3 separate regions of the Homo sapiens genome follow, and regions 1 and 2 are each reported to be linked to region 3. The links are microRNA targets in miRTarBase. Many come from high-throughput screens and were not tested one by one. Region 3 holds a microRNA gene; each other region holds the end of a gene's coding sequence.

Region 1 (3,000 bases), not on the chromosome of region 3:
ATGGGCAAAGACTTCATGACTAAAACATCAAAAGCAATGGAAACAAAAGTCAAAATTGACAAATGGGATCTAGTTAAACTAAAGAGCTTCTGCACAGCAAAAGAAACTATCATCAGAGTGAACAGGCAACCTACAGAATGGGAGAAAGTTTTTGCAATCTATCCATCGAACAAAGGGCTAATATACAGAATCTACAAGGAACTTAAAACAAATTTACAAGAAAAAAACAACCCCATCAAAAAGTGGGCGAAGAATATGAATAGACACTTCACAAAAGAAGACATTTGTGGCCAACAAACATACGAAAAAAAGCTCATCATCACTGGTCATTAGAGAAATGCAAATCAAAACCACAATGAGATCACATCTCATGCCAGTTAGAATGGCAATCATTAAAAAGTCAGGAAACAACAGATGTTGGAGAGGATGTGAAGAAATAGGAACGCTTTTACACTGTTGGTGGGAGGGTAAATTAGTTCAACCATTGTGGAAGACGGTGTGGCAATTCCTCAAGGATCTAGAACCAGAAATACCATTTGACTCAGCAATCCCATTACTGGGTATATACCCAAAGGATTACATATCATTCTACCATAAAGACACATGCACACGTATGTTCGTTGCAGCACTGTTCACAATAGCAAAGACTTGGAACCAATACAAATGCTCATCAATGTTAGACTGGATAAAGAAAATGTGGCACATATACACCATGGAATACTATGCAGCCATAAAAAAGGATGAGTTCATGTCCTTTGCAGGGACATGGATGAAGCCGGAAACCATCATTCTCAGTAAACTAACACAGGAACAGAAAACCAAATACTGCATGTTCTCACTCATAAGTAGGAGCTGAACAATGAGAACATATGGGCACAGAAAGGGGAACATCACACACTGGGGCCTGTCGGGGGGGTGGGGGAACAAGGGGAAGGATAAGATAAGGAGAAATACCTAATGTAGATGATGAGTTGATGGGTGCAGCAAACCACCATGGCACACGTATAGCTATGTAACAAACCTGCACGTTCTGTACATGTATCCCAGAACTTAAAGTATAATTTAAAAATAAATAAATAAAAGGTCAGAGCCCACTGAAAAGTAAATATGATCTATTAATTAGCTATTGGGTTATGGTTCCTTAAACCCCGAAAGTCTAAGATGTTAATTAGGCCTGGCCCTGCCTGTGTATGGTTTGTGTCAATGTATATCTAAACACAGTGGAATGGAGTAAAAGTAGCTCTATCTGAGGGAAGAGGACTGAGAATGAGACAGGAGTTGATAAAGGAGAGCAATGTCAATTTCACCAGGCTGACCTGGAAGGCTGCTGAACCCCTGTGTAAAGACCAGTTGTTTTTTTTTTTTTTTCAATAGAAAATACTGAGGGCCGGGTGCAGTGGCTCAGGCCTGTAATCCCAGCACTTTGGGAGGCCGAGGCAGGCAGATCATGAGGTCAGGAGATTGAGACTATCCTGGCTAACACGGTGAAACCCTGTCTCTACTAAAAATACAAAAAATTAGCCAGGCGTGGTGGTGGGCGCCTGTGGTCCCAGCTACTTGGGAGGCTGAGGCAGGAGAATGGTGTGAACCCGGGAGGCAGAAGTTGCAGTGAGCCAATATCGCGCCACTGCACTCCAGCCTGGGCGACAGTGCGAGACTTCGTCTCAAAAAAAAAAAAAAAAGAAAATACTGAGTCTGTATAAAGAGCTTCCTTTCTCTAATAAACACTCAAGGAAAAAAATGGCAAACTTACAATTAGCATTTAACATTGAAATAACCTACCTTTTGTAACATGTTATAAACTTCTAGATGAAGCAGCACAGGAAAAAGGCCCAAGAAACATATAACATGTAACCATGACATCTCTGAGAAATGAGACTAAGATTCTATCCAGAGATAAAATCAACCTAGTAACTTTTCTTTCTTCTAAATCTGTGAAGTAATTTCCTTTACGCTTCTCTTTCAATAAGAAAAGCAAATGGATGGAAAATATTTTGCAGAAAAATATAAAGAGTAAAACTACCCAATACTAGTAAATATAAAATTATACAACCTACCTGAAAGCTCTACTTTTAAATGGGTAAGAACACATATGCAAAATAACTTAAAACAAGATAAAAACAATGTTCTTTTTTAGAAAAGCACAATATATGATGCAGCTTAATAGGCAAAATTTTATATTAAGTATTGCAAATCTTAAACTCTCATCAAATTTTTAAAAATTCCTATAGGTTGTTTTCAGTCATTAAGTAACTAAAGTATCTTCTAAAGTAATTCTCCAATGTTTTGCATTTCAAATATTTTAATAGTTTTATTTCGCAAAGAGAAGCCTAAGAATTTTTTTAAAAACATTTCCAGAGAGAACACTTTATACCATAAAATAAACTTGTATAATTTGGGAGGACAAATCATCTCAAATGTATATTTTTGAATTATGTGCCAATTTTATAATTAGTACAAAAATGACAGCTGAAATATTTTAAAAATGTAAAAACCAGTCCAGGCAACATAACTATACCATCTTGCTGTAAAAGTACTTATATCGAATTCCGCACAAAATATTTTTGCAATATGCTAAATTTAGTTCTTCAAGTCACTCTTCACTGCCGGCTGGCTTTTCCATTTTCTGTTGTCTCCATCCTGAAATAGGAAGAAAAAAACGAGTTGATAAAATAAATATTCATTAACATTTTGTCTCCTTATCTACCTTTCACATGAAAATTAAAATAATATATTCACAGAACAGAACATCAGCATTTTAGGAAAGGACTAACATCAGGGTTCCTCTAGCTAGGCCAATTTCTTCATTTTACAGTGAAAATTGAGGCCTTGAGAGACTAAGTGACTTTCCCAAGGTTACAAGTCAAAGGCCACTGTTTTTTGTTTGTTTGTTTGACTATACCACACTCTCCCTTTCCAAGCAAAACTAAGGAAAAAATCTCTACAATTTCATCAAGAATTTATTTCCTTCCCCACTAAATAAATGTATTTCCACCAACA
Region 2 (3,000 bases), not on the chromosome of region 3:
CGCTGGTCCCAACTACCCTATGCCCCTGCTGTGCATCCTCACTGAACTAAGTCCCCGATCTCCACCCTCAGATCATCGCAGCACAGGAAGAAATGCTTCGGAAGGAACGAGAGCTGGAAGAGGCGCGGAAGAAACTGGCCCAGATCCGGCAGCAGCAGTACAAGTTTCTGCCTTCAGAGCTTCGAGATGAGCACTAAAGAAGCCTCTTCTATTTAATGCAGACCCGGCCCAGAGACTGTGCGTGCCACTACCAAAGCCTTCTGGGCTGTCGGGGCCCAACCTGCCCAACCCCAGCACTCCCCAAAGTGCCTGCCAAACCCCAGGGCCTGGCCCCGCCCAGTCCCGCAGTACATCCCCTGTCCCCTCCCCAACCCCAAGTGCCTTCATGCCCTAGGGCCCCCCAAGTGCCTGCCCCTCCCCAGAGTATTAACGCTCCAAGAGTATTATTAACGCTGCTGTACCTCGATCTGAATCTGCCGGGGCCCCAGCCCACTCCACCCTGCCAGCAGCTTCCGGCCAGTCCCCACAGCCTCATCAGCTCTCTTCACCGTTTTTTGATACTATCTTCCCCCACCCCCAGCTACCCATAGGGGCTGCAGAGTTATAAGCCCCAAACAGGTCATGCTCCAATAAAAATGATTCTACCTACAACCTCTGCCTGGCTTCAAGGGAGATACAAGTTTTCTCCCAGGGCAGTAGGAGAGACAGTGGGGTTGAATTCTGTCACCCAGCTTGATCCAGCTTGAAATGGGAGAGGGGAAGACTGGCAGTCTGCACCTGAGGTCCCTTCCTCCTTGCACCCGGACCCTAAAGTTATCCAATGGGGAAGTTGTGCCTGAGAAGTCATACTCCTGTTATCCTCACCTCCCTGGCCAGCACCTAAGCCTCACAAAGTGTCGTTCTGCTGCTGCTGGGACAGCAGCTACCACAGTTCCTTGTGGCTACCAGGACATTCTGTTCTTCATAGCTACTCAGGGTATGTCAACAAATCCAGTCCTTGACCAAATTCAAATTTTCAAAAGAAGCTTTGCTAAAAATAATATGCCTGTAAGTGTCTGAGCCTAAGAGAACTATGGCCACAAAACTGATTGAAGCCATTAGCAAGCAGAAAAATCCCAACTTGAGGCTGCCTCGGGTAGGCACCGCTCTTGATTGGGTTGGGACACTCCTGCCTAGGGTAGCGCTAAAAGTGAAGAGCTTGACCCAGGTGTGAGAATTTATTGTTAGAGGGGGCAGAGCTCCCCTAGTGGCCAGGAAGGTGCTAGCAGCCCTGTTCCAGCCACCCTGCTTATCTGGTGGGTCAGTGGAAAGAGGCAGTCAGAGAGGTGGATGCTGTGTGCTTCCACGTCCCCATCCAGCCACTCTGTCCATAATGCATGGACTCTCTGACAGTCGTCTTAGGTTGGCAACTATTTTCATGCGTGATTCTTTAGTCAGCCCTACCGCCCAGTACATTATTTCCTCAAGTAGAACACAAACGCCACCCATCTGCTACTAACACCTTCTACTCCCACCACATTAGGGAAAGCTTGAAGTAGATGGAATGTAGCTGGTAACGGTGGTTCGAGCCTCTAATCCCAGCTACTTAAAAGGCTGAGGCAGGAGGACTGCTTGAGACCAGGAGTTCAAGGCTGCAGTGAGCTATGATGGTGCCACTGTGCACCAGCCTGGGTGACGGAGTGAGAGCCCTTCTCTAAGAAAGTAGATGGAACTCTAGGACAGCCCATTAGGGATGGTGCCAACCTCCTACCATCACTCCTATCACCTGTGATTCATTCATTCAATATTTACTAAGCCATGCTTGTGCTAAGCACTGGAAAATTGAGATGTATTATCACTTCTCTGACGCAGAGGACTGGCAACTCCAGTACATACTGTGGGGGCTCCCTAATCCCAGATTCAATGTCATAGTATCAGTTGAGGACCTTGGAGATCAAATCCCTTCTATAACCTCCCCGACAAGTGGCAGTCTAGACTTTGAACTCCAGCTAGGAGCCCAGGACAGCTGCTTACTCCTGTTACCATTTCCTTGTCATGTCCTCAGGAACTGGGACCAATCACATACTTCTCACTAGTGATACCTTGGGAGCCATCTGGGGAGAGGCTTTAAAACCTATTAAACCAGCAGCTCTTCAAATGTGGTCCTCAGACCCCTAGGGTTCCCTAAGACCTTTTCAGGGGTCCATAGGTCAAAATTATTTTCATAAAAATACCAAGACATTATTTTCCTTAGCTGGGGATGGTGGTGCACACCTGTAATTCCCAGCTACTTGGGAGGCTGAGGCACCAGAATTGCTTGAACCTGTGATGCGGAGGTTGCAGTGAGCCAAGATCACGCCACTGCACTCCAGCCTGGGCAACAGAGCAAGACTCAAAAAAAATGTCCTTGATGAAGTAAAAAAAAAAAATTTTTTTTTTTTTTTGAGACGGAGTCTCGGTCTGTAGCCCAGGCTGGAGTGTAGTGGCGTGATCTCGGCTCACTGCAACCTCCACCTCCTGTGTCCCGGTTCAAGCAATTCTCCTGCCTCAGCCTCCCGAGAAGCTGGGATTACAGGCACATGCCATCATGCCCAGCTAATTTTTGTATTTTTAGTAGAGACAGGGTTTCACCATGTTGGCCAGACTGGTCTTGAACTCCTGACCTCATGATCTGCCTGCCTCAGGCTCCCAAAGTGCTGGGATTACAGGCGTGAGCCACCACGCCCAGCCTAAATGTATTAATTTAATTAAACCTTAATCCTTAAGGAAAAGGCTTTTCAACATTCTGTCTGATAAAGTGGGAAGTATGCATAAGACATTTTGCATACCAAAGTATGATGGTTTTCTGGAGGAAATAACTTAGGCCATTCTTTGAGTTGTGAGCTGAACTAGCTGCTCTTTTATGGAATGCCACGTTTACTCAAAAGAATGGCCGACAAACTGTGGTTATCAGATTTAGGTAGCTGGCAGAACTTTTCTAAAAAGGAACAAAGTGAGTCTGTCACTTCAGGGAAAAATCTG
Region 3 (3,148 bases):
TATCCTGGCCTTCTCCTTTGTGCATAAACCTGCTATGTCTTTTTCATGTTAAAAATCCCCTACCTCAAACCTGGGAATCCTCCTTACTACTACTCTTACTACTGCTATGATTACTACCCTACCTTACTTTGCATACAAACACACTTTTGAAAGAGTTGCCAGTTCCTGCTATTTCCACTTGATGACAATTTATTGTTTCCTCAGTTTGGTGCAATCTGGCTTCTGCTCCCGCCATCCTATTGATATTTTTCTCATTGAGTCATCAATGACCTGAAAACTGCCTCTTCTCATAAGCTTGTCTCATCTTTCTTGACCTCACCATATTATTAGGTGCTCTAATCCTTTCTCCTTTAAAAAAATGTGAAAAAATAAAATATTCAAGCAGCATCAGAAGCTACAAAGTGAAATTAAGATTCCCCTCACCCATGGCTCCTAGCTAGGCTTCCTGGTTCTCCTTCCCAGAGACACCCATTGCAACCAGGTTCTTGTGTGACCTTCTAGAGAAGATGTGTTCAGGCCCAGAAATAGTCTACATCACACACAAGGATGTTAGCATGCTGTGTACAATTTCTGTATCTTGCATTATTCCCCTCTGTCTTGGAGATTGTTTCTTATCTGCTTATCTAACTCTACATCACCCTTTGAATAACTTCCTAGTTTCCTATATAAGTGAGTTTATCTGTAGGAAAAGTTCAGAGTGCCTTCTTTCTTTTTAAGCCCCTCTTCTCCTTCATTTTTATGACATTGTGTGTCTGTCTTAGTCTGTTTTGTGCTGCTATAAGAATACCTGAAACTGGGGCCTGGTGCAGTGGCTCATGCCTGTAATTCCAGCACTTTGGGAGGTTAACATGGGCAGATCACTTGAGCTTGAGCCCAGGAGTTTGAGACCAGCTTGGGGAACATGGCAAAATCTGTCTTTACACACACAAAAATTACAAAAATCAACCAGGTGGGGTGGCACATGCCTGTAGTCCCAGCTACTTGGGTGACTAAGGCAGGATTGCTTGAGCCTGGGAGGTCAAGGCTGCAGTGTCGTGGTCACAGCTTGCTGCAGACTCGACCTCCCAGGCTTAAGCAATCCTCCTGCTCGAGTGACAGAGTGAGACCCTGTCTCAAAAAAAAAAAAGTGGATAACTTACAATGAAAAGAAATTTATTTGGCTCATGGTTCTGGAGGGTGGGAAGTACAAGATCAGGGGCTGTATCTGGGGAGGACCTTCTTGCTGCATAGTAACCTGATAGAAGGCATCACATGGCAAGAGAACACATGAGGGAGGGTAACTTACTTTTTAAATAAATTCACTCCCACAATAATAACATCAATCCAGTCACCTCCAAAAGTTCCCACCTCTCAACACTGTTGCATTGGGGATTAAGTGTCCAGCACAAGAACTTTGGGAGAACACATTCAAACCATATCACCACATTTGCTGATGTTCTTCCTACCTTCACAGCCACTCCCAATAGAAATTCCAACTCCACAAAGACTTCCAGTGACAGTTGAATTTGGAGGGTTGAGACCAGCTCATGACCCAGAAAGGAAAACAGAAAGCTTACTTTTTGTTTTGTTACAAGTGCAGTCTCTTAAAAATAACCACAAAATGCCCCCCCAAATGGCATATGGAAAACAGCACAGAGATGGTGTGTTAATCTACCTGAAATGTCTTTCTAAGGAAGTGAGGCTTGGATGGGAACGGAAATGCATCCCTTTTTCTTCCCAGGGTACACGTCTTTTTCTCACTTCCTCTAACTGGGAGCCCCAGGGCCTGGCTTTGTCTTGTAGCTTCCTGCCGTGATGCACCAGGCTAAGTGGGAAGGTTTCTGTTCTATGTCTAAAGTAGCACTGGCAGGTCCTCATTCTGCTTGTAATTGGGATGGGAATATGGGTAGGAATTTAGGGTTTGGCAGAGCGTACAGGACCTCTTTCAAGCCAGAGCACAGCCCTGTCAGACTTACTCACTGGACATGAATGGGTCAGTCAGCCCTCAGCAGTAACCACCAGCTACCATGTTAAGTATTTGATGTGAATTTTATCAAGTCATTCTCGCCACACCCTACAAGAAACTTGAGCTTAGGGGACTTAGCTAACTTGCTTGAAGGTTGTATAGCTGGGAATTGTTGGAGCCAGGATTGGTACCCAGGTTAGCTTAACTTTTAAGTCCGTGCCACACAATCAGATACATAGTATGAGGCAATGGGATGTAATGGAAAGCCCATGGGCTTTGGAATTGAACAGATGGGCTCTGGATCTTGGCTCTCCTACTTGACCCTATATGACCCTGAACAAACTGTTAACTCTTAAAATTATCTGTTAAGTAGAGATAATCCTTTTCCTGCCTATCTCACAGCCTTGTGGGAATCAAAGCTATAAAAAGATAGGCAAATAGAAGGGATAATTACTATTTGAGGGTGAGTTTACTTGAAGCCAACAATGTGGGTTTAGGATGAATGGTGAAGAATAGATAAGAAAAAAAATGATATTCTGTTGACATGGGAAGATGTTTAGAGTGTATTTCATCTAGTTTCTTTTAAAAAGCAAGCAAAAGAACAGAGTCATGATTCCACCTTTGTCTAAAAACTAAAAAACATCCATTCATCTATTCATCCAGCCATCTAGGATACAAACCAAGATGTTAACATAATACAGAGATTTGGGGTGGCGGGATTAAGAAGGATTCTTTTGTGTGTTTTAAAATTTTTTATGGCCAGGCACAGAGGCTCATGCCTGTAATCCTAGCACTTTGGGAGGCCAAGGCGTGCAGATCACGAGGTCAGGAGTTCGAGACCAGCCTAGCCAACATAGTGAAACCCCGTCTCTACTAAAAATACAAAAATTAGCTGGGCATGGTGATGGGTGCCTGTAGTCCCAGCTACTTGGGAGGCTGAGGCAGGAGAATCGCTTGAACCCGGGAGGTGGAGGTTGCAGTGAGCCGAGATCGTGCCACTGCACACCAGCCTGGGCGACAAAGTGAGACTTCATCTCAAAAAAAAAATTATTATTATAATTCCTTTTTTTTTTTTTTTTTTTTTTAGAGACAGGGTCTTACTCTGTTACCCAGGCTGAAGTGAAGTGGAACAGTCATAGCTCACTGCAGCCTCCAGTTCCTGGGCTCAAGGGATTCCCCGTGCCTCAGCCTCTTGAACAGCTG

Evidence for each region. The annotated mature microRNA hsa-miR-1273h-5p reads CUGGGAGGUCAAGGCUGCAGU and lies in region 3 at 1,011-1,031, shown strand. An mRNA with a match to its seed (bases 2 to 7 or 8) in the 3' UTR can be bound and repressed. Matches are read on the target gene's strand: a 7mer-m8 pairs with bases 2 to 8, a 7mer-A1 pairs with bases 2 to 7 and ends in A, and an 8mer does both.
Region 1: miRTarBase lists INTS13 as a target of hsa-miR-1273h-5p. Seed matches in the 3' UTR shown: 8mer at 2,396-2,403.
Region 2: miRTarBase lists TLN1 as a target of hsa-miR-1273h-5p. The part of its 3' UTR that is shown has no 7-base or 8-base seed match.

The regions. Positions count from the first base shown.
Region 1 is chr12:26,902,897-26,905,896 of GRCh38, forward strand. INTS13 (integrator complex subunit 13) reads right to left here. Exons shown (of 17, transcript NM_018164.3): 17 at 2,285-2,640. The coding sequence ends at 2,601. Among named protein-coding and RNA genes, the nearest start is that of INTS13, 34 kb to the right of the region's middle.
Region 2 is chr9:35,694,988-35,697,987 of GRCh38, reverse strand. TLN1 (talin 1) reads left to right here. Exons shown (of 57, transcript NM_006289.4): 57 at 72-1,040. The coding sequence ends at 197. Among named protein-coding and RNA genes, the nearest start is that of TPM2, 6.6 kb to the right of the region's middle.
Region 3 is chr16:24,202,138-24,205,285 of GRCh38, forward strand. It overlaps MIR1273H (microRNA 1273h), which reads left to right and starts at 979; the gene lies at 979-1,094. All of the region lies in intron 16 of PRKCB (protein kinase C beta), which reads left to right.